Homo sapiens: one gene and its partners. The protein of the gene in region 3 interacts with the protein of the main gene of each other region in a biochemical or structural test. Each region holds a gene or a part of one and is shown on either strand. Other genes may lie near its edges.

Evidence for each region.
Region 1: of the proteins of PDGFC (region 3) and ST14, one has a biochemical effect on the other in vitro, tested with the Homo sapiens proteins (one study listed by BioGRID).
Region 2: of the proteins of PDGFC (region 3) and PLAT, one has a biochemical effect on the other in vitro, tested with the Homo sapiens proteins (one study listed by BioGRID).
Region 4: of the proteins of PDGFC (region 3) and PLAU, one has a biochemical effect on the other in vitro, tested with the Homo sapiens proteins (one study listed by BioGRID).

The regions. Positions count from the first base shown.
Region 1 is NC_000011.10:130,197,749-130,204,783, reverse strand, and holds part of ST14 (suppressor of tumorigenicity 14 protein), read right to left. Parts: intron 6,944-7,035; coding exon 6,839-6,943; intron 6,477-6,838; coding exon 6,366-6,476; intron 6,277-6,365; coding exon 6,163-6,276; intron 5,838-6,162; coding exon 5,715-5,837; intron 4,834-5,714; coding exon 4,647-4,833; intron 1-4,646. UniProt on the Homo sapiens protein: Exhibits trypsin-like activity as defined by cleavage of synthetic substrates with Arg or Lys as the P1 site. Involved in the terminal differentiation of keratinocytes through prostasin (PRSS8) activation and filaggrin (FLG) processing.
Region 2 is NC_000008.11:42,183,552-42,190,586, forward strand, and holds part of PLAT (tissue-type plasminogen activator isoform 1 preproprotein), read right to left. Parts: intron 5,521-7,035; coding exon 5,383-5,520; intron 4,466-5,382; coding exon 4,355-4,465; intron 4,022-4,354; coding exon 3,847-4,021; intron 1,622-3,846; coding exon 1,530-1,621; intron 1-1,529. UniProt on the Homo sapiens protein: Converts the abundant, but inactive, zymogen plasminogen to plasmin by hydrolyzing a single Arg-Val bond in plasminogen.
Region 3 is NC_000004.12:156,961,787-156,968,821, forward strand, and holds part of PDGFC (platelet-derived growth factor C precursor), read right to left. Parts: intron 5,960-7,035; exon of another isoform or gene 5,809-5,959; coding exon of another isoform or gene 5,785-5,808; intron 1-5,784. UniProt on the Homo sapiens protein: Growth factor that plays an essential role in the regulation of embryonic development, cell proliferation, cell migration, survival and chemotaxis. Potent mitogen and chemoattractant for cells of mesenchymal origin.
Region 4 is NC_000010.11:73,914,119-73,918,016, reverse strand, and holds the end of PLAU (urokinase-type plasminogen activator isoform 1 preproprotein), read right to left. Parts: coding exon 3,889-3,898; intron 3,242-3,888; coding exon 3,101-3,241; intron 2,767-3,100; coding exon 2,618-2,766; intron 2,447-2,617; exon of another isoform or gene 2,396-2,446; intron 1,629-2,395; coding exon 1,452-1,628; 3' UTR 523-1,451; downstream 1-522. UniProt on the Homo sapiens protein: Specifically cleaves the zymogen plasminogen to form the active enzyme plasmin.

The DNA of each region.
Region 1 (7,035 bases), on a different chromosome or scaffold from region 3:
GGAGTGTAGTGGCATGATCTTGGCTCACCACAACCTCCGCCTCCCAGACTCAAGCGATCCTCCCACCTCAGCCGCCCCCAAGTAGCTGGGAGTGCAGGTGCATGCCACCATGCTCAGCTAATTTTTGTATTTTTAGTAGAAATGGGGTTTCACCATGTTGGTCAGGCTGGTCTCGAACTCCTGACCTCAGGTGATCTGCCTGCTTCGGCTTCCCAAAGTGCTGGGATTATAGGCATGAGCCACCGCGCCAGGCCCCCTTCTGGCCTTTCTTACAGCCACCTCCCCACGGAATCGCACGCCAAGGCCAAAGCTCAGTTTTCCAACCTAGGCTATGCCCAATCTCGCTTCACTGTAATCTGTTGCCACCAGAAAATGACTTCCCAAAAGCTGTTTTTGTGAGATCCTTTGCGTCCCATTCCACAGCCTAAAAGAATTCCCAAGAGTTGCCAGGTGAGGTCTTGTGACCCACCCAGGCCTTCTGCGTTCACTGTTAATCGACCTGACCTTTCTAACAGTTTCCCAGCCTGCTCACATCCAGCCACGTACTCAACCCCCATCAACTCATTCACTCAACAATCTCTGGGCATCTGTGATGCGATCTATGACCCAGCCTTCAGGTTCACAGTGTACATGTGGAGAGATATGAAAACCACCAATTACAGCGTGACAAGAAGGGTCCCACAGAGGACTGGGTAGAAAGCTGTGGGAGAGGATGGGCTGGGAGTCCGGAAACGAAGTGAGTTATGAACCAAGCCTCGACATCACGTAGGCCTGGCCACCTATGGCCTGAAGGGGTGGAGAATGCCGCATGTTTAAAGAGAACAAAGGTGGCCGGGCGTGGTGGCTCACACCTTATAATCCCAGCACTTTGGGAGGCCAAGGCAGGCAGATCACCCGTGGTCAGGAGTTCAAGACCAGCCTGGCTAACATGGTGAAACCCCGTTTCTACTAAAAGTACAAAAAATTAGCCGGGCACGGTGGCGCATGCCTGTAATTCCAGCTACTCGGGAGGGTGAGGCAGGAGAATTGCTTGAACCCGGGAGGCGGAGGTTGCAGTGAGCTGAGATCGCGCCATTGCACTCCAGCCTGGGCAACAAAAGTGAAACTCGGTCTCAAAAAAAAAGAAAAAAGAGCAAAGGCACATTTAGGAAACCCTCACACTGAGCATGGGGAAGGCATGAGGACTGCACTGGAGACTGAGACTGCACGGACGGGCAGGGGCCAGATAACGTGGCCGTGTCGGTCGTGAAGGAGTTCCTGCTTTATACTGCAAGCCGTGGCAGGCGCTGAAGCAAGAGATTGGGGTGATCAGATTTGGGGAAGGCCCCTCTGGGCTCGAGTGGTGCAGACCAGAGTCCTGAGAGGGAAGGAAGTAGATGGGGAGGGTGCTGCAGCTGCCCAGGCTACAGTGAGCTAGGACGAGCAAGGTGGTGGCAGTGCAGATAGAAGAGAGTAGAGATGTTTCAGGAACACCCAGGAGGCGAGCATGTAGCTGAAAGGGTCTCATGGGACGGGGGAGAGGGGAGAGCCATCCTTGTCCCTCTAGCTCAATTCCCCGTGACCCCAACACTCAGCATGGACACCCCCATCCAGCTCTTTGCCCTGTGCCTGCGGGTTTCCACCTCCCTCCTCCAAGCCCGCCCTGTTCACCTGGCGACCTCAGCTCAAGACCCCGCTTTCATGAAGCCCTGTCTGCAAACCCAGCCAATCGGTAAGTCTGACAGTATTTGATTCTATCAGCAGACTCAGCCTCTAACGTTTAAGGCATGCACGTCTACCAGCAGCTGAGAGACTGATTGTGAAGATGCAGCCACTGATATCCCCCATGGTGACCCCAGGGGCTGGAGTGCAGTTGGGAATCGCTAGTGCTCAGGTAGAACTTCTGATGTCCCAAGCACAATTCTCGATGCTGACACAGTAAGTTGTTTTATCCCTGAAACAGTCCTGTGAGGTAGGGTCGCGCTTTTTAAGATGAGGACTCAAGCACAGAGAGGGCAACTTGCCGAAGATCATATAGCTAACACGCTGTAGACCACAACTGCAACCTAGGCAGCCTGTGCATTTAACCGCAACGTGATGCCGCCTCCCGGCAGTGCCCAATGAATGCATGATGACTTAGCCATGTGCTCAGGGTCCCTTGACACCATGCCCCTGCACATCTCACACCTCCCTGCCTCTGCACACGACACTCCCTTTGTCTGGAAGGTCTGAGCCACCTGGTCCAGCTGACAGACACCCTCACCTTCAACCCTCAGTTCAGACACCCATGTTGAGTGTTCCCAACAGTCACCCCCCGAGTCCCTCAGGCATATGGGTTTAGAATTCTAAACTCCACATGCTGGGCCCAAGGGAGCCTGGACACAGCCCTGCCACAGCACTTACTGCACATGTGTGTCATGTCTTGTCCCTACCCTTACAAGTCTGTGACCCACAATCTGCAGGGACCAAGTCCTATTCATGTTGGTCTCTCTAGTGTCAATAGTAACCAGGGGTGTTGAAGATTAATTGCACTACTCGTTGGCAGAAGCATGACTGATGATCAACACACGATGAAGGAGAAGGAAATGAGAAAGAAAGCAACGAAGCAAAGGAAAAGAGGAAGCAGTGCAGGATGGCAGGGCAGTTCTTAGTATGCACCCAGCCATTTCCTAGCTCTACCTGCTAACTGGGCCTGGACATGACACCATGGTGACAATGAACACACTAAGCAACCGGACCTTGGTCTCTAAATACCATTCCCAGTAAAGGACTCCTTGGAGAAATGGCTGGTCCTAGGGCTGGGCTGGGGAAACATAAGATGAGCCTATTGTACCTGGTAGTGCCAGAAAGCAAGGACATGGCTCAAAAAAGGAAAGAATGGGGCATATCAAAGAGGCACAAAAGCCAACCTCAAAGAGAAGTGGTTGGGCCAGGCATGGTGGCTCACATCTGTAATGCCAGCACTTTGGGAGGCCAAGATGGGAGGATCACTTCAGCCTAGGAGGTGGAGGCCAAGCTTAGCAACTTAGCAAGGCTCTGTCTCTACAAAAATTTTAAACTAGCTGGGCATGGTGGCATGTGCCTGTAGTCCCAGCTACTCAGGAGGCTGAAGCAGGAGGATTGCTCAAGCCCAGGAGTTCAAGACTGTAGCAAGCTATGATTTGCACCACTGAACTTCAGCCTGGGTGACACAGTGAGACAAGGGACAGCCTCAGGCTGGACAAAGCCACGTGTCAAGCACCCAGCGAAGCTGGGGACCATGGAACTGGGTCCACTCCCCACAGGCTCTTGCTGTCCATCTCCATCACCCAAGCCCTGTGCATGGGTCTGAGCACACTCCATCTGTGCCTCAGGCCTCCCTCCTGCTGTGGGCCCATCTCTCCTCCCTGCAAAGGGCAGCTGAGGGCTTGGGTCACCTGCTCCTGGAGCTGCCTACCATGGAAAAGCGTGCAGCCAGCAGAAAGCGCATCCCCTTCTTCCGAGGTTGGATTCTCCTGGAAGGCCCATGCCCCTGTGCCTGCCTCTTCAGGGCAAGCCAGGCCCTAACACTCCTTCCTTCAGCCAACAGCCAGACGCCCAGAGAGGCCAGGAGCTAAGACACAAATAGCGCAGCCCGGCATTGTGCCCCTGTTCCTGGGATGCCCATGTGACCCTTCCAGGCCTCTCATCTGTCTGTGTGTCTGAGGCCATGACATGCTGAGCACCTACTATGTGCCAGGCACAGCGCAAAGTGTCTCAAGTACAGCATTGTATTTAATTCTCACAACTCTAAGGGTGGGAGCTGATACTGTCACTATCATTGGTGAAGAACCCAAGGCCTAGGAAGTTTGAATAACCTGCCCAGGGCCACCGGCAAGCCAGAGCTGGAGCATGAATCCAAAGCTCACGTTGGCCAATCCGAGGAGTTGCACAGTGCAGACTCACCGGAGACCACACCTGTGCTCAAGTCTGGCTCTGCCACTTAACAGCTGTGCCACCCCAAGCAAACGTCCCTACTTCTCTGAACCTTACTTTCTGTAGTGAGGATACAATCAAGCTGCCTAACTTGCTAGGGGGTTTTAGGAGAGGCACAGAGACAGCACTTGGCTGCAAGTGGGCACCGAATACAGTGAGTTTTTATTATTACTGTTATTGAGCCCCGTCCTGGGATATCTGCTCATTTGGTTTGGATGCTTGTCCCCTCCAAATCTCATGTTGAAATGGGATCCCCAGTGTTGGAGGTGGGGCGTGGTAGGAGGTGTTTTGGTCACGGTTCCCTCATGAATGTTTTGGTGCCCTTCCCATGGTGATGGGTGAGTTCTGAGTTCACACGAGGCTGGCTGCTTAAGAGTCTAGGACCTCCTCCTGCTCTCTCTTGCTCCTGTTCTCGCCATGTGATGTGCCTTCTCCCCCTTCACCTTCTGCCATGGATGGAAGCTCCCTGAGGCCCTCACCAGAAGCAGAGGCTGGCACCACGCTTCCTATACAGCCTGCAGAACCATGGGCCAAATAAACTCTTTTCTTTATAAATGACCCAGTCTCAGGTATTTCTTTAGAGCAACTCAAGAATGGACTAACACATGTGGCCACCCCTCCAGTGCCCTGCCTCGGTGCCAACCTATCCTGGCATTACTCCCAGATGCAAAGGGCCAGCAAGGAGGCTCCCTGCTGCCCACCCAGAGACCCACCTGAATCCTCTGTCATCGATGTAGCAGTGTGCGGCAGAGACCAGCCAGTTGGGAGAGATGAGGGAAGCACCGCAGATGTGGCCCTGGCCCAGAGCATGCAGGCTTACCTGCCAGGGCCACTCGCCCTCATCCGCATCCGTGCCCCCAACAACACGAGCCTGTCTCGTGAATGACCGCAGCCCACAGTCTGCAGAGGGAGCAGAGAACCAGAGGACAGCAAGTCAAGGTGGGGACATCAAACCACAAGGGGACATGCAGTGTGTGCCAGGAGACCCTGTGTGGGGAAGCCAGCTTTTGGCGTGCACAGCACTGCTGGCGTGGCCAGGGCGTGAGGGACCCCCAAAACTATCTTTGAGCTTCACAGACTCCCTTCCACCATGCCCCTCCTTCTCCCCGCTCCCAAATTCAAACCCTCATCTTCCCACCTCCCCCTCCCTCACAAATGCAGCGAGGGCCTCCGGAGGCTGGCTGGTCAGCTTCACTTTGATTTGGGTGTCATCTGCCTGACTTGACATCATTTGGGACATCACAGGGGAGGGGGCAGCATGGAGCAGGGAGAAGCGCCTTTGAATGCTGAAGGCCACAGCTCTGAGAGGGACGAATGAACCGCTGATGTGAGGTCACAGAACGCTGGAGCTGTGCTCAAATCTAACCTGTGGCCAGCCAACGCTTCTGAAACACAGAGGCTGCAGATTAAAGTATGGGCAGGCAGGGGTGACACCCTGCCTTGGGCTTGGGTGAGCTGGGCCGCTCTTCTCCAGGCTACTGCTCCACAGCTGTGTCTACACAGCAGGGGCCAGCAACGCACTGCAGCCACGACCCCGCCATGCTACAGAGGCGCTGAGATGCTGGCCGTACGGGCCTTTCTCCAAGACCAGAGCCAGCCCGTGGGGTGGTGCCTTCATGCCAACTGGCAAGGCTATCCTTTCCTCCAGGAGACACACCCTCTCACCCAAGCACAGAGCTGCTAAGTGAGGTGCTGGCGGGATTGCACCTCCAGGTGCACCCTCTGGTGGGCACTTCACACAGTGAACAACCTGCACAACCGTACTCGGATGCCCTGCTCACCGCAGTCCTTCTCATCTGAGCCGTCGCTACAGTCCTCCTTCCCGTCACACTCAGGGTTGCCCTTGCTCAAGCAGAGCCCATTGAGGCAGCGGTAGGTGTGTTTGGTACAAGTGACGACGTTCACTGTTCAAGGAGGAGGACAAGGGAGGGGCTCAATTCCTCTGCAGCATCCGACCAGAAGCCAGAAACCACCAATGGCGCCTCATGGCCCCTGCACATTACCCCCTCACCCAGGCCTGCCCCACCCACGCCCACTGGCCTCCCTGCCCTGCTACAGGTTCTCCACCTTCTGGAAAATTCTCCCCCAACCAGAGCCCTTTCTCATCACACTTAACACACAGGTGGTTTGTGTTCATTAAACTCGGGGCGTCCTGCATGTGCGTGTGCTCAGGGCAGCCTCCTCCAGGGGCGAGGCCCCCAACAGGAAGATGGGTGGGGCGGGCCTCACCCTTGGGGCAGGAGGCCTCGTCGGACCCGTCCCCACAGTCGTCCTTCCCATTGCACTGCTGGCTTTTCGAGAGGCACTTCCCATTGGAACACCTGAAGGTCTGGGCCGGACAACCTGGAGAGGCACCAGGACTCAGCCACCAGGAGCCACCGTCAGTCGCCCCGCCCACCTGCCCGCCCAGGCAGCCCCTCCCCAGCACTCACTGCACCCCTGCTCGTCGCTGTTGTCTCCGCAGTCGTTCACACTGTCGCAGACCCAGAAGAGGGGCTTGCAGAACTTGTTCTTGCACGTGAACTGGTGGCCGGCGTCGCAACCTGGAGTGGGGTAAGGGGAGGTCGGCCGTGAGGCCCTCATCACTCACTGCTTCCCCAGGATGCCCAGGCGATCAGAGCTACCTGGGGACCGCTTTCTGATCTACAGAGAGGCCCAAGGGGCCCTGCTCCACCAGCTACCAAGCTGACCTCAGCACTTCCGAGATACCCCACCACCTGCCCCACAGGCCAAGATCTCCATATGGCAGGGTGGGGAGTGGGGCCAGAGGTCTCTACACAGGGCCGAGAGCAAAAACTCCCACCACCTCCGGCCTTTCTGCCTCGGCAGTCAGCCAGCAGGGCCATGGGACGCGGGCAGGGTGGGGAAGGAGGGTGGGGAGACCGGGGCTCCCAGCCTGACTCACTGCAGTTGAGCTCATCGCTGTGGTCGGTGCAGTCGGCCCAGCCATCACAGCGCAGCTCCTTCCGGATACACCGCCCCGTGCGGCACGTGAACTGCCCCGGGCATGCTGCGGGCACAGGCAGGCCTGAGGCCCCCAGCACCCACCCACCTCCCTCCGCTGGCTCCCGGCTCCCTCCCTCGGGCCAACCTCCCAGCCAC
Region 2 (7,035 bases), on a different chromosome or scaffold from region 3:
TATTTCTCGGACTGTGTCTGCCAGTGTCCTGAGGATCTGATGATGGGCTTGGGAAGGAGGAGGGTATGAGCCGTGGAGTGCTGCCTGTTTTCATTTATTTCCCCCATTTTTCCATTTTTTTCTCCCGACCTGAAACTGACAAAGCATACCTCTATACATAAATACCATAAATGGAAGGGATTTTCAAGATTATCTAGATCTGCGAGTCCTCATTTAGACCAGACCATGGGGGATGGGGAGGATATTGTAGAGTGACTGTAAAGTCTTCAGAGTCACAGGCATCACCCGTGGACCTGGGTGCTGAATGCATATAGCTGGTGCGTGTTTATATATATCATATATAAATTTAATATATGTGTATTACATATATATATACACACACCCACACACATATTTATGTATTTATTTTGAGGCAGGATCTCACTGTCACCCAGGCTGGAGTGCAGTGGCACAATCATTGCTCACTGTGGCCTCAACCTCCTGGGCTCAAGCGATCCTCCCACCTGAGCCTCCCAAGCAGCTGGGACCATAGGCACAAGCCACCACACCTGACTAATTTTTGTATTTTTTGTAGAGATGGAGTCTCACTTTGTTGCCCAGGCTGGTCTCAAACTCCTGGGCTCAAGCAGTTCTCCCGCCTCAGCCTCCCAAAGTGCTGGGATTATAGACACGAGCCACTGCACCTGGCCCTATATATATTTAGAACTTAAAAAAAATCTTTCATAGTGCTGTGATAAATGTGATAAGTAACGTAATGATTTGTATAAGCACCACTGAATTCATAGTACCTTTCTGTAACTTAGCATTTCATTTTTTTCTTTTTTTTGAAACAGTTTTTTGTTCTATCACCCAGGCTGGAGTGCAGTGGCATGATCTCGGCTCACTGCAACCTCCATCTCCCAGGTTCAAGCAATTCTCCTGCCTCAGCCTCCTGAGTAGCTGGGATTACAGGTGCCTGCCACCGTATCCGGCTAATTTTTGTATTTTTAGTAGAGACAGGGTTTCACCATGTTGGCCAGGCTGGTCTCAAACTCCTGACCTCAGGTGAGCCGCCCGCCTCAGCCTCCCAGAGTGCTGGGTTTATAGGCATAAGCCACTGTGCCTGGTCTTGTAACTTAATATATATTTTTTCAATCTTGGAAGTTTTTTTTTTTTTTTTTTTGCATTAAAAAGTTTGAGAGGGAGCGAAAGAGAGACAAAGCCCCATTCACCCATTAATCAAAAAAGGGAGAATCTCCATTCATTCTCAAAAGGACTGAAAACCACTGATTCAGCCCCATCCTCTCCTCCATAGAGGAGGAAATTGAGGGTCAGAGTGTGAGGAGATCAGCTCCAGGTCAGACAAATAGCCAGTCAGAGGCCAAGCCCAGGCACAGACCTAAGTCCTGTCTTTCTTCCCTCTGCAACCAAAATGACTCACTCCTGGCCTCCCCCTTTCTCCCCTCAGGTGCAGGAGGGCTATCGGCCTGTCCTCCTGGACTTTCCTCCCCCAGGGACATTCAGGGAAAGGCGGGGTGGCTGCCACTTACCCTCAGAGCAGGCAGGGGTGCTGCAGAACTCTGAGCTGTACTTCCCCGCCTTAAAGACGTAGCACCAGGGCTTTGAGTCTCGATCTGGGTTTCTGAAAAATCAGCCAAGGGAAGGGCCAGGGTAGGTCAAAGGTGAAGCCTCTCCTTTAGGACCCAAGGACTTTGGTATCCTTTTCTGGAGGAATGGGGGGTGCTTTTTTTTTTGACAGAGTCTCGCTGTTTATCCCAGGCTGGAGTGCAGCGGCGCATCTCCTCTCACTGCAACCTCCGTTTCCTGGATTTGGGCAATTCTTCAGCCTCAGCTTCCCGAGTAGCTGGGATTACAGGTGCCTGCCACCATGCCTGGCTAATTTTTGTATTTTTAGTAGAGACAGGGTTTCACCATGTTGGCCAGGCTGGTCTTGAACTCCTGACCTCAGGTGATCCACCTGCCTTGGCTTCCCAAAGTGCTGGGATTACAGGCGTGAGCCACCACGCCCAGCCGGGAGTGCGTTTTTGGTTGTACACTGGTAGTTCTATCATGTTAGGCAGGAGTATGATTTTGTTCCTGTGTTTACTTGGAGGTGAAGGATGGTTTAAGGAGATGCACATGGGTGCCAAATTGACAAGGTGTGGACTGGAATAGTCTTATATGTCAACTTGGCCAGGCTGTGGCACCCAGTCAGTTAACCAAACATTCATCTAGGAGTTGTGAAAGTGTTTTATAGATGTGGTTAATATCTACAGCCAGTTGACTTTAGAAAAGGAAATTGTCCTAGATAATGTAGTTGGGCCTCGTCCAATCACTTAAAGGCCTTAAGAGCAAATATGAGGTTTCCTGAATAAGAAATTCTGCCTTAAGAGAGCAGCCTCAGCTTCTGCCTGCACTTCCAGCCTGGCTTACCAAGATGTTTCGGACTTGCCAGCCCCCACGATCCTGTCAGCCAGTTCCTTAACATAAATGTCTATCTATCTAGTGTGAAAGGAAAATAAATCTCAGGACCCCAACGTCATGAGCCAAGGGAAATGTCAAGCCGGGAACTACGTCAGGCAAACCTGCCTCTCATTTATTCCTCAATAAGATAGCTGCAAAGTTTTTTTTTTTTTTTTTTAATTCTCTACAAGGACATTCCTTGCAGGCCTAAAGATCTTTACCCTAAAACAGTTCTGTTGACTTTCACCTTGGCATTGTAAATGGATAGCTTATCTTCCCAGGTGCAGGACAGAAAATCATCCCTCTGCTCATCTGAGACAAATGCGTATCTGATTGCTTCCTCTGCCCTATTTTTTATGTAAAAATGCAGATGAACTGAGCCAGACTCAATTGTGTGTTCAGTGAAAAGCTGATCAAGGACTCAGAATACAGCCTTTTGTCTCTTATCTACCTATGGCCTGGAAGCCCTTGCTTCGAGTTATCCCAACTTTCCCGACCAAACCGATGTACATCTCACACATGTTGATTGATGTCTCATGACTCCCTAAAACGTCTAAAGGCAAGCTGTGCCCTGACAACCTTGGGCACATGTCCTCAGGACCTCCTGAGGCTGTGTCACGGGGGTGTCCTTAACCTTGGCAAAATCAACTTTCTAAATCGATTGAGACCTGTCTCAGATACTTTGGGTTCACACACATTCTCTCTCTCTCTCTATTTCTCTCTCCTCTTTCTCTATCTCTATCTCTCTATCATCTATCAATCTGTCTATCATCTATCTATCTATCATCTATCATCTTACATCTACTATCACCTATGTATCTATCATCTATCAATCTTCTATCATCTATCAATCTATCTATCACCTATCATCTATCATCTATCATCTATTTATCATTATCATCTATGTATCATCTATTTAATCATCTATCAATCATCTATCATCTGTCAATCTGTCTATCATCTATGTGTCTATCATCTATGTATCTATCATCTATCTTTCTAATCATCTGTCTATCATCTACCACCTATCATCTATCATCTATCCATCTATCATCTATCTACCATCTATCATCTATGTATCTATCATCTATTTATCTATCAATCATCTATCAATCTATCATCTATCTATCACCTATCATCTGTCTATCTGTCATCCATCTACCGTCTATTTATCATCTATCTATCATGTATGTATCATCTATTTATCTAATCTATCACCTATCATCTATCATCTATCAATCTATCATCTATCACCTATCATCTATTATCTGTCTATCATCTATCCATCTATCCATCCTGTATTGGTTATGTTTCTTGGGAGAACCCTGACGGATCTGACAGAATCTTTCCCCAGCTGTAGCAGCTTCTCACAGGGGGAATCCCTCCTTGGGGATGTGCCCTCACCTGCAGTAGTTGTGGTTCCCCAGGCCCAGCCTGATGGCGTCTGGCCTCCGCCCGCTGTAGGGCTTCTGGGCCAACGCGCTGCTGTTCCAGTTGGTGCACTCGGCGCCACTCTCCGCTGTGCTCCACGTGCCCCTGTAGCTGATGCCCTGGTCCTCGTAGCACGTGGCCCTGGTATCTGACAGAGAGCAGGGCATGGATGCCTCACATGGGAGTCCCCTTTCATTCAGCCCTCAGGAGGCTCCCCTCTCTGCCCCGTCCTCCCCCAGGCCTGATGCAGGCTGGCTCGGAAGCCACAGGCTGGGTGGCAAGGGTGCCAGCCTGGATTCAGGGTCACACCTAGGCTCTGCTTGCTGTGTGGCACTGTGCTTCCTGACCCATGGCAGAAGCGCCTTCCCTGTCCCTGGCCCCCACCCCTGGCCCTGCCATCGCACCCTGCCTTTCCTTCCGGGGGCGGGGGAGACTGGAGAGGTGGGATTTCAGCTCGTTTCACGTGCTCTCACCTACTCACCTATTTCACAGCACTTCCCAGCAAATCCTTCGGGGCACTGGCACACGAAATCTGAGAAGTACAGGGCCTGCTGGCAGGTGCCCCCGTTGAAACACCTTGGCTCGCTGCAACCTGTCAAGTATAAAAAAGGAAGCCCCTAATGACAGCCTCCTTCTGTGTGCTCAGGCCATGGTTCCAGGAGCCCTGTCTACCACAATCCACACACACTCAAGTCCTGCAGCGTGGAACACGCGTATACCAGTTCTGCATCCTACAAATACTGTTTTCATCCTGCCTTTGGTTGAAAAAAATCCATACATAAGTGGACCCTGCAGGTCAGACAAGTGTTGTTCAAGGGTCCCCTGTATTTTCAAAGCAGCTCCAAGGATGATGTGAGTTAAAATATTAAGAATGTGCTCTATGTGCCAGGCGCTGTTGTACAGTCTACAAAAATTAGCTAATTTAATCCTCACAGCAAACCATGAAGTGTGTACTGTTATTCCCACCTCTTTATAGATGAGGAAACTGAGGCAAGCGGGCATTTGCCCAAGGTCACTTGGTCTTGCTCCCTTTTCTGCTTGTACCTTCACCTCCGCCTAAGGCCGAACAGGCCTGGAGGCTCCTTTTGAAGATTTGAACTTTCCGGGGACCATGAAAGACAGGGTTCATGACTGGACCCCTGAACTCGAAGTCTCAGTTTGAAGTCGATTTGTACTGGGCTTTTCTGTGTTTTTGTTTTTGTTTGTGTTGTTTTGTTTTGTTTTAGAGGTGAGGGCTTGCCCTGTCACTGAGGTTGAAATGCAGTGGCACAATCGTAGATTACTGCAGCCTCCAACTCCTGGGCTCAAGTGATCCTTCTGCCTCAACCTCCCAAGTAGTTGGGACTACATACCAGGTCTGGCTAATTTTTTTATTTTTTGTAGAGACAGGGGACTTGCTATGTTTGCCCAGATTGGTCTTGAACTCCCGGGCTCCAGCGACCCTCCCACCTTGGCCTCCTAAAGTGCTGGGATCACAGGCATGCACCACCTCCCAGCCTCAGTACATACTTTTGACAGGCACTGAGTGGCACTGTGCCCTGCCACTGTTGCACCAGCAATATTCCACCCGGTTGCTTCTGAGCACAGGGCGCAGCCATGACTGATGTTGCTGGTATATCATCTGCGTTTTTTCATCTCTGCAGATCACTATGAGAAAAGACAGGCCAGCCTCATCAGAGTATGACTCAAAATGAAATGCCTCACTACCCTTGCACCTACTGAGAAAACTCCCTCACTTGCTTTCTATAGACTCCATTGCATACTCCCTTATTGAAGAGACACAACTGGAAGACAACAAGATAATGAATACTGGCCAAACACGGTGACTGATGCTGGTAATCCCAGCACTTTGGGTGGCCGAGGTGGGTGAATCACTTGAGCTCAGGAGTTCGAGACCAGCCTGGCCAACATGGTGAAACCCTATCTCTACTAAAAATACAAAAATGAGCCAGGCATGGTGGCAGGTGCCTGTAATCCCAGCTACTCAGGAGGCTGAGGCAGGAGTATTGCTTGAACCCAGGAAGTGGGGGTTGCAGTGAGCCGAGATTGTACCACTGCACTCCAGCCTGGGCGACAGAGCAAGACTCCATCTCAAAATAAAATAAAATAAATTTGCATTTCTTTTCTGAGTGCCATTGAGTATCTTCTCATATGATTTATTTATTTATTATTTATTTATTATTATTATTTTTGAAACAAAGTCTCACTCTGTCGCCCAGGCTGGAGTGAAGTGGCACAATCTCGGCTCACTGCAACCTCCACCTCCTGGGTTCAAGTGATTCTCCTGCCTCAGCCTCCCGAGTAGCTGGGATTACAGGTGCCCGATACCATGCCCGGCTAATTTTTGTATTTTTGGTAGGGACGGGGTTTCACCATATTGGACAGGCTGGTCTCGAACTCCTGATCTCAAGTGATCCACCCACCTCGGTCTCCCAAAGTGCTGGGGTTACAGGCATGAGCCACCGTGCCCAGCCTAATTTTTTCTTTTCTTTTCTTTTTCTTTTTTTTTTTCGAGGGTCTCTGTCACCCAGGCTGGAGTCCAATGGTGCTGTCTTGGCTCACTGCAACCTCTGCCTCCCAGGCTCAAGCAGTCCTCCTGCGTCAACCTCCCAAGTAGCTGGGACTACAGGTGCACACCACCACACCCAGCTAATTTTTAAATTTTTTTGTAGAGGCGGGGTGGGGTGGGGGAGGCAGAGGTGTCTCACTATGTTGCCCATGCTGGTCTTGAACTCCTGGGCTAAAGCCATCCTCCTGGATCCGCCTCCTAAAGTGCTGGAGTTACAGATGTGAGCCATTGCACCTGGACTTTTTCTCATTGTAATTCACCAAAAAATATATATATGCATAACTGTCTACCAGAGTTTTTTATCCACATAAGTATTACCACACAGAAATGATGCATTTTTGGCCCCAAAGAAAATTGACATTTTAGACTTTGCAGAAAATGTGCTACTTCTCCAAGTATTTTTGGCATAATGAAAATAGTTGAAGTACTCCCATTAATATTTTCATGCCATCTTTCTGTTTTCAAGCCAGAATGCCAACTTAAAAAACAACAACTTTACTTTCAATTAATTAAAGAAGTAGCACGTGCCCACTGTAAGTCAGACCCTTGCTGCTTCTGAGGTCACTGAGGCCAGGATAACCTGGTAGGAAGCA
Region 3 (7,035 bases):
TGCGGATCCTTCACCCAGCCTCATTCTGCACGCCATCCGTTTTGTGAATGAAGTGTGAAAATAGCTCTTTGTTTACATAAAGAAGGCAATATAGAGTAGTGTGGACACAGGCTCAGCTCAGGAGAGTGGAACTGAGGCTGCGCAGCCTGCCCTTCTAACCTGTTCACAACTTCCAAACATGCCTGATGACTGAAAAACATTCCAGCAACAAGTAGTTATCTGCACACACCAAAGCAGAAATCTGTCACTGCCTGCCTGCTGAGAAAGGAACTGAATAGAAAGGGTTTTGATGGAATCTTAGACATGAAGACTTTTCTTTTTGTTCTGTTTGTTAACTGTCAACCCTGCAGGAAGTACACACAGCATCAGGGCCTTTGAATGCATAGGTCTAGGACATCTTTCCACTTTTTCTAGCCTCTCCTCACTCTCAACATTCTCGATGCTTCTTGTCTCTCGCCCATGATATATGCCTCTTCATGCCTCTATTCTTTTCTTCAGGCTGTTCCCTCAGCCTAGGATCCTTCCCTCTTTTTCTCCCTCTCAGACCCGCTTCAAAACACATCACCTCCTCTGTGGGAACTTTTCTCCTTCAACTTCCCTTCCAGACAAAACCAACCACTTAGTAAATCAATAGAGGATTTTTGAAGTGAAATAAAGCACTGTGTTCCCATAGCACTTTGAGCACAAAACTAATAGACCATGAAGTAAAAGGAAGGATCTGCCATCCTCTGACCGAGTTTCTCAAAGGCAGGTCTGCATCTTCTTCTCTGCATATGCGGCACCTAGGGCAAAGCTTAGCAAAGAGCAGATGCTCATACATATTTGCTGAATGAAAACAATGTTCTAATAAAACATTAGACCATTTAACTTATGAAGGAAGAGGCACGTGGCTCTGAGTCCTGGCTTGGAGTCAGACCAAGGTCCAAACATCTACCAGCTGTGGGACCTTAGCTAAGCTACTTAGCCAGTGAAGCCCTGGTGTTTTTCCTAATACCTCACGGAGAGTTTATACACTGCATACTATCTGCAAACATTGAGGACACATGTGGCACCTAAGAGTCACTCCTGGAGAGTCATTATTAAGCAATGCAAAACTAGAAGCTTACTCAGAGCCCTTTAGACCCATCCAACTACCCTCTAAAATGCATCTAAATCCTGCTGCTCCCAGGTCCTTCCTGGCAGATCATGCTGGTTTATCAGCACATAGTGTATATAGTAGAAATGTAAATCCACATCCTTGCACTTACCATTAAAATGCCTTGTTCTGTTTGAGAATGTTGATTTCCTTTAAGGAATCAGACCTCTACTTTGCCTCTGCCCCACAAACCCCAGCAACAACCCAATACATACCTCAGTGGACTAAGAAACAACCCAACTACTAGTCTAAAGAAAAAAAGCCGGCTGGGCACAGTGGCTCACCTCTGTAATCCCAGCACATTGGGAGGCCGAGGTGGAAGGATCACTTGAGCCTAGGAGTTCAAGACCAGCCTGGGCAACATAGTAAGACCCCCATCTCTAAAAATAAATACAAATATTAGCAGGGAGTGGTGGCACACACCTGTAATCCCAGCTACTTGGAAGGCTGAAAAGGGAACATCACCTGAGCCTGGGGAAGTTAAGGCTGCAGTGAGCTGTGATCATACCACTGCACTCCAGCCTGGGTGACAGTGAAACCATGTCTCAAAAATAAAACAAAACAAAACAAATACAAAAGGGAAAAAGCTAAGTACAAAAAAAAAATCACAGTCTGAAAATAAAAGAGGAATTAAGTGGAATAGCAAGAGAGCAAATTTAGTGAAGCCAGCCTGGCAAAGATAGTCTGGTGTGGAAACAGGGCAAATAACCGTCCAGGGAGGAGCCTACTCAGTCACTAGGGGATGATAAAAAGTGGCTTGAAGGTGGCACATGAATTCTAACGAGAAATCTGATGACAAATAAAATTAACAAAACTAAATTTAAAATGCATTCCCATGAGGTAAAAGGCAAAATTAGCGAATGCTACCAAAAGTATCACTTATAACAACTTGGCTTTAATTATAAACGTAGTTATTATAGTTCCCCTTTATAATTTTTAGCTCCCTTTGTTTTCAGATTTGGGAACTTTGCAAACCAAAGTTTAAAAAGGTAAATTAATAATATTTTAGGCAAGCCATTCAAGTTTATAGCTATGAATTTATTTTCTGACGGTCTTGACCAAAAAAAAAAAAAAAAACTTGAACTTCTGAATAGAATATCCCATAGAATATAGTGTAAATAAAAGTTAAGGTCACTCACTGAATATATTTCAAAAATAATAGGTTATACTTTCTAGCGTTCACTAAACATGCTTATTTATTCATTTTTATGGTACTTTTATCATTGAGATGTACTGTTAAATGAAATGTTAAAATTATTACCAGAAAGTTTCCTTGTGGAACCAAGCATGCCAATGTCAGCCATATTATTCATCACCATCACTGAATAAGCCAAAATATTAAAATAAACATCCTTCATCTATATACTTGCTTAAAGTACAGTTCTAACATAATGGTAACCATTATAAAGGTAGTATTTCCAGTTATTTGCCAATTTGTCAGATGCCTACAGAAACAGAAGTTATCACTATATATATATATAGTGATATATATATAACAGTATATATATAGTGATACTATATATACTGTATATATAGTACATATATATACAGTATATATATAGTGATATATATATACCATTCCATTTGACTAATGTGATTATTATGAGATTGTTTCCCTTACTGTTCCCGTAAATATTTCCGAAGCAACAGATTCTTACCTCATCTCCCAATCTGAAAACCATGCAATCCACTAACATAATAAAGAAATGCTTTTATAAAAAGTATGTGAATTTTGAAACCAGGATTCCATTTTCCTAATTGGTTCTCACATAAGGAAAAATGTATCACCACATTAGCAGTTTAATAGTGGCTGTCTAGTGGCCTTGACAAAGTCAAGTCAACTTCTGCTCTCTAGGCCTCAATCTGCACATCAGTGAGGATAAGTTCCTGGGGTCTTTCCAACTCTAACATTCCTCATACCACACATGTTGCTGAGTTCTAGCCTGTGCAAGTTATCCTTGAGCCACAGGTAAAATATAGAAAGTACACAGATTTTGGAGGCTTGTCATCTATGCAACATTTTCAAGAGTCCTTGGTCTGCATCACATGACAGTCCCCATCTTCAGAAAATGTAAGGCTATGCACAGCAATGACACTTAAAAGAGTAACCAGTTCTAGGAAACCTATCCATTTGCCTGGTACCTGCTCACTTGGTAACATAATCTTTATCAAGAGTAAAACGTGGTACTCTGATTGGCACAACCATCACTACCAATACATGAACAAGCTATCTTCCTATTTAAGAAGTCAAGTAGTGTGCAAGCTCCAAGACCAAAAAGATATCTTAAAAGATGGCCTGTTGTTAGAGTTAACAGCATAGTCTTTCTTTAATAAGATACTAACTACCTCCAGAACCTTTCAACAGATACTCATCGGGCACACTCTGCCATACCTGTCTCAGGTGCTGGAGTTCCTACAGGAAGCGATTCAAACAAGGTCCACGCTCTCAACAACTTAGATTTTATGGTGGGGGTGAGGGATGTTGGTAGATAATAAATTAATTAATTAATAAACAAGAATATCAAGGAGTATTAAGTACTACATAATTAATTAATTAACCTTGACAAGACAGTGAGGGGTGGTTAATTTAGACTTAGTGGTCAGAAAAAAGACCTCTCTGAGGAAGTGAATCATTTAATCTAGATGAAGGGAAGGTGTTATCCATGCAAGAGCAGCTGGTTAGTGTTAGCCAGAGAGGCAGGGGCAAATGACTGGAAGTTGCAATTGTATGCTGAGTGTGCCATGTCCACCATCTCATCACTCCCCCAGCCATAACCCTTGAGGAGCTAAAGCCAAAAGAGCTGCAGGAAGGGAGCTTGAAAGAAGCCATACCCCTTCTTACTCCAGGTCCTTCAAGTCATGGGTCAGGCCTGAGCTGCCAAGCAGAGAGGAAAAAAGATAGAAATTTTAACCCCAATATGAACTAAAATTGTCCACAGCTAAAAGTGTCAAAATGCTTAACAATCAGTACGGCAGGAACACTGATCGATCAGGACAGAGGCCAGCAGGGTTGCAGAAGTATCTCAGAGGCCTTAAGCAGTACCAGGCATTGGAATTTCTGCTTCATCACGTGTTGGTCCATTTGTCTTAGAGGAGTTGCACTAGTCTCTTCCCAACTCATTGGAAATATTTCAACATTTCAACATTTTGGTAATCAGTATGGAACTAACACTGGTGCATACTAAATGATTATCAAATATTAGATGTCTCCTTAGGAGATTTAAAAAATGGGAGATTTGAAAAATAAAATCATAGTTGGAGGCAGTGGTGGTGAAAAATAATACAACATACAGATTGTTTACAACTGATCTTACCCAAAAGATCAAGAAGCAACAGAGATTGCTTAATAAATGAGTTATATAGAGATTACATAGAGTTACACAGAGTTATATATTCTGATTACGTATAATGCTTCCAAATTAGAAACATGAAAATCAGAGTAAGTAAATGAAGGGACTTTATGACTTCTACCATTTTGGTTGATACAAACAGAAACCTACGGGGAAAATATCATCAGTCTTGGAAACTTTTTTTTTTTACTATGAAATTTATGAATGTCTTAATTTGTTATTACTTATTCAACATATCACTTTATCATTAGAATTTTGTTTCCACAAAGGGTGCAAAAGTTTATAGATAAAACTTAGAACCTTATCAGTCTAAAGCTTGAAAAAAACATGAAGTGGAAGCTAATATACAGAAGATATTTAAGAAATAAGTTTCAGGAAGGGTGAAATACAAGTAGACAAAGCTAAGGCTTCCGTGCCTGAGACAGAACTAGAGGTCGTAGAAGAGATGGCAGCACTGAGGGAAGTTTAATGTCCAATCCCATCCTCTATTTACAACTATTTAACAAACGATATATTAGTCCCTGAGGCTTCCTACAAACCTCTGTACTTTCTAAACACCTTTCAGTGGTAAAAGCAAAGTATATCATCCATCCAATATCTATGATTAAAATTGATATGGAAGAAAAATTACCACATAATAGAGCTTTTTAATCACCTACTGTGAAAAGACAAAATTCATCATTACATAATGGCACTGTACTTGTTCAACTTCCTCAACTATTTCAAACAGCAGAGAACCAGGAGGAAGTTTTTTCTTTTTTTTTTTTTTTGTAAAAAAGCCTTTAAACAACAAAAATAAATGTCAAAAAGGTCACGCAATAAAACTTACAGGGAAACTTACAGGAAAGTCCCTTTAGTCTGCAGTTAGAGCCTATTTACTCTTGGACACTGTTCTAAATATTGTGGTTATCTGTTTTTGATAAAACAGAGATTTGAAGCTGCCACCTAAAAATGATGGCGAGGGGACTGGGCACCTTTTTTAATTTTCCATTTTTAATTTAAATTTTGTTAGATACAGGAGCATTGACAGTAGGAAGAGAAAGCTGGCACTGATAAAAAGAGATGGAAAATCCATAAACACAAGATACCGGCAAAAGGGCACGACCAGCAGACCAAAGTAAATTGCCCCACATGCCACAAAAGCCCTTGAGAAAAAGAACACATACAATAACTGATGTTAATAAGACCAACCGTAGCGAAGAGCGGCATATTCCAAATCAAAATTCAGAATGGCTAAAGAAAATGAGAAAAAAATGATACGCATGCTCTTAATCTATGAGTAAACTAAAAATCACTCACCAACAACACAGGTAGAAGAGGCATTCCTCCACCAACAACTTTGTCATTGACATCTCTTTGTGCTGTATGCAACAGACAAAGTAGGTTTTGTTTTGTTCCTGGGTGTATGATTCTTTCTGCTACAACTCAGAAGCACCGTCCCAGAACTTAATCATTCCACAATAGGCATTCTCATCTAAAACCAGTGTGCACAAAATATGAGTATTTTTCACCATGGTCATACAACAAGTATACAGGCCAGACACCCTCCAAGCAAGTCAATGTTATCTTTTAATCTCTTTCCTCAAGTTAAATCTGAAGACTCTTGTTTTCATAAGTGAGACAGGGTCAGAAGTAAGGTTAAAAATTAAGTATAGTATATGAAGTCAACTTATAATATTAGAGGATAAAACTTTGTACAGTAAAAGTGGCAAGAATTGCAATCCAATGGTAGGTCAAAAACCAGATACCTAACAATAGTGTAAATGACACTAACCCTTCAAAGCTAATTCTGAACCATGTCCACATGATCCAGTCTAAATCCATGTATGCAGCATTGGCTACAGCAATCAATTTCCAATTCTACCTCCTCTTGAAATACCAAGTTAATATTAAAACTGAGCAGCCCGAGGTACCTGATTGAGTAATCACCATTAGGGACTTTAGAATACTCAAGAAAAGAGAGTATCATGAGGAGGGGTCCTTGGAGACAAGAATGAGCTGCTACAGTCATAATATATCAATTTGGACATTTCAGAGTTAGAGAAGACCTGTCACAAAACGATGCAATGCACAAACTGGGCCAATGGGATCTTCTACGTGGTATCCTCAAGGAGGGTTCGTATTTACAGGACTGTACAACTGTCAAAATTGAGACAGCAACAGGGCAATCAAAATTCAATCATAATTCAGTATGTGGGCAAAAGATTACCCACATAATGGAAAATTTGAAAGACAAAAAGAAGAAGAAGTAGAAGTAGTAGTAGTAACGGTAATGGTAGTAGCTCTAACAAATCTGGTTACATTCCAGGGGAATCTTCTTCAGCACCCACCTGTTACCCTCAAATCTTGAAACATTTACGTATAAAAATCAACCTGAGCATGTGCAAGAAAATAGCTCTATATTGCCCCCTAGTGCTGGCCAGTGCCACTTCTCCTTGGGCTAAAAACTACAAGTAGTTCCTCTACTTCTAGTTACTTCCTGCTGCCATCCTTAACATAGACCAACCCCCAAACATAGCCTAATCCTCTACCCACAGATTAGGAAACAAG
Region 4 (3,898 bases), on a different chromosome or scaffold from region 3:
TTTTTTATTTTTTGCAGAGACAGGGTCTCACTAAGTTTCCCAGGCTGGTCTCAAACTCCTGGGCTCAAGCGATTCTCCCACCTCAGCCTCTCAAAATGTTAGGATTACAGGCATGAGCCACTACACCTGGCCACAGGTGTTCTTCTTGGTTGAGGTCAGCTCAAGGATTGTTGGGGGCAGAGTGAAGAGACTGTTGTGGAGTTAACCCTAAAGAAGACCACCATGTACAGCTGTACAAGATGTGCACTGCACAAAGGCATCAGGTTAAGGAGGCAATTGGGAGCTGACACTAAGCCTGTACACTACTTACACAGCCATGGGATTGTGGTTTGGGGAAACTTTGTATACATTAAGTGCTGTGGTGGCCCTGCCCTACAGCTCTCCTAACCTCTACCTCCCAAAGCTCCATTAAGTCCAGAGATGCAGTCCCATAAGAAACTCTAGGGTGCAGTCCACCTTTGTTATTTTCTCCTTTTTATGTACTCCAACTCCTTCCCATACAAGCACCAGGGAGATTTGTCATCAGAAAAATCACATTTTATTGATCACTTTTATTTAAAATTACAAAAATATAAATAAAAATAGTGAAATATAAATATTCAGTGTACAGGAGTGGTCCTCACCCCACCCAGTGAGGATTGGATGAACTAGGCTAAAAGGAAGGGATAACTGGCCAAGAAAGGGACATCTATGTGAAAGTGAAACTGAGACAGTGCTGGTCACAGGTCATGCTGCAGAATAATACATTCCCAGGCACTGTCACGTGGGGGACCCAAGAGGCCCCAGGAGTGACCTATAACCTCTCCAGAAAGACCACTCTGTGTGGCATCACAGTCCACACAGTTTAAGGAAATATTTAGACTTAACAATCAGACACCAGCTCTTACTCACACTTACACTCACAGCCCACACACAAGTGTGCAAACATACACACACATATATATTTCCTGATACATTCATGGAATATCAGAGCCCTGCCCTGAAGTCGTTAGTGTCTCTGCTCCCCAAACCGCTGCTCCCACATTGGCTAAGCTCCCTCAAGAGACCTCAGCTGTTACACTTCCTAATTGGGAAATTATTCATTTCTCAACCATGGGCCTCACAAATGCCCACCGTCGGGGGAGCTGGCTCTCCCTTCACCCATGCACAGGAGATGCCCTGCCCTTTTTAACTCCTGCAGGCTTCAGTCCAGAAAAAGACAAGTTGCTGGTCAGTAACATGTTGAGTCAGGACCACCCCTCCATCCTGGCCAGAGGGGTCTGGGCAGCCAGCACCCAGGCCTATGCCTGAGGGTAAAGCTATTGTCGTTCGCCCTGGTGGGTGGCACAGGCAAATCCATCTGTGCAGAGCCTATCTTCCCAGTCTCTTCTTACAGCTGATGGAGATGACTCTACTGCAAAAATGACAACCAGCAAGAAAGCGGGTGGTGCCCGTTTCCTCCCTGGGGACCCTCAGAGGGCCAGGCCATTCTCTTCCTTGGTGTGACTGCGGATCCAGGGTAAGAAGTGTGAGACTCTCGTGTAGACGCCTGGCTTGTCCTTCAGGGCACATCCACGGCCCCAGCTCACAATTCCAGTCAAAGTCATGCGGCCTTGGAGGGAACAGACGAGGGGTCCCCCTGAGTCTCCCTGTGACGCCAAAGATACAAAAGATGAGCCCTAGAGAAGTGAGGAGGGGATTTCTGATCCCATCACCCAACCATACCAGAGAGAGGGAAGAGTTTCCCAGTCAAAGTCCTTAGCGACTTCCCATTTTCTTTCTTTTTTTCGGGGGGAGGACAGAATCTCGCTCTGTCGCCCAGGCTGGCGTGCAATGACGTGATCTCAGCTCACTGCAAACTTGCCTCCTGTGCTCAAGCGATTCCCATGTCTCAGCCTCCTGATTAGCTGGGATTACAGGCAGGCACCACCACACCTGGCTAATTTTTTTTTGCATTTTTAGTAGACACAGGGTTTCACCATGTTGGCCAGGCCGGTCTCAAACTCCTGGCCTCAAGTGATCCATCCACCTCGGCCTCCCAAAGTGCTGGGATTACAGGCATGAGCCACTGTGCCTGACGCAGCCCCATTTTCTACCACATCAAGTTTAAAATCCCCTGCTTGGCTTTAAAAGCCCTGTCATCTGCCACTATTCCATCCACACTCCCAGACCCTAGTTCTCCTCCCCACCCGGAATATGCCAGCCTCCTTCTCAGTTTTGTATCTTTCAACTGAAACACCTTCCTTTCTTCCCTCTGCCTCTTCAAATGCCTATCAAGTCACATTTCCTTTAAAGCCTCCCCTCCCTGACCCTCAGGTTGGCACTCACCTCCCTCTCCTGAACACCTGATCATTTATAGTTCACAACACACCCTGGGCACTGAGTTACATTGTCTTTTACTGTTTCCTCTTTCTAGGATCTCGTGCCCCCAGTCTGAAGTGACTAGCGCAGAGCTGGGATTTTTTTGGTAATGTCTGGCAAACACATAAGGACTGGTTTAAACCCTCAAAGACCTGAGCTCCTGATTCTGGCTACTTAGGGCTTTGGCTAGAGAGAGACACCCTTAAGCTGGCTGGAACAAGCCCAGGAGCTCTGGGGAGATATGGAAGAGGTGGAGAGAGATGCTTGGAACACTCACCTGGCAGGAATCTGTTTTCCACTGTGGGTCAGCAGCACACAGCATTTTGGTGGTGACTTCAGAGCCGTAGTAGTGGGGCTGCTGACACTCCCGGTGGGAAATCAGCTTCACAACAGTCATTTTCAGCTGCTCCGGATAGAGATAGTCGGCTAGGTGGAGAAAACAGGGAGGCGTTTGCATCAAGATTTATCTGTCCACTGGGAGTCTGCCAGAGAGGGGAACCATAAAGTATCTCTACCAGGGAAGGCCCTTATTCTCTTCCATGCAAATCTGAGCCTTTACTCCACCTATAGCCCCTACCATCTATTTACCTTTGCAGCCCATCGCTCCCTAAACAACACTCTTCATCCATCCCTGGACCCATCTGCCACCGCCTCAGTGCTCCCACCTCTAACTCTGCAGTCTTCCCTTGATCACGCTGGGCTCATTTTCAGGTCAAAACACTCCTCAGGACCTTCTAAGTCAGTCGCAATTGTCACTTACTAGAATTCTCTTTTCCAAAGCCAGTGATCTCACAGCTTGTGCCAAACTGGGGATCGTTATACATCGAGGGCAGGCAGATGGTCTGTATAGTCCGGGATGGCTGCGCACACCTGCCCTCCTTGGAACGGATCTTCAGCAAGGCTGGGGGAGGACAGAGGGTCAGAGGAGAAAGATCACTACTGGTTAGGCGGTCCCCATCTGTCCCCTCCAAGTGCCGAGGAAGTAGCTATGCCTATCCCTAGGTCAGTCATCCAGGGAGGTCTGCTGGTCGCTTATCACCTGGAAACCTCCCCTGCCCCATGCCCCAAGGGCTTTGTTCCAGGTGTTGAAAAAGGCTTGGATGGCCAGAGCCACTGCATACAGCTGTACAGGTCGTTTCTGCAAAAACTCCCAGCTGAGGTAGTTAGGCTGGAATCCATCCCAAGGCTCCATTCTCCAAGTTCTATATCCTAGCACAGACAGAGGCTGCATCCCACAAAGGAAGGTGTGTCTTTTTCTAATTCATATAAACAGGGCCTTCCCAGCCCAAGCCATATACCCACAGGGCTGTTTCCACTCGCAAGAGGCTACTTGTTGGGGAAATTCAGGGTCTCTCCAGAGGAGCACCAGGCCCCTCAGACTTCATGGAACTCTTCCCTGCCACTCCCTTTGTCATGTATATCGAGGCTTCAAGGTCCCTCGCCCCACCCCTGCCCCACCGGGCAGCTTCAACCTCAGCTCCAGTCTCTCCCTGGGTCCCACTCTCCCCAAGCCATTATGGCCACAGTAGTCGCGGGGTTCCCCCTCACCAATGTCGTT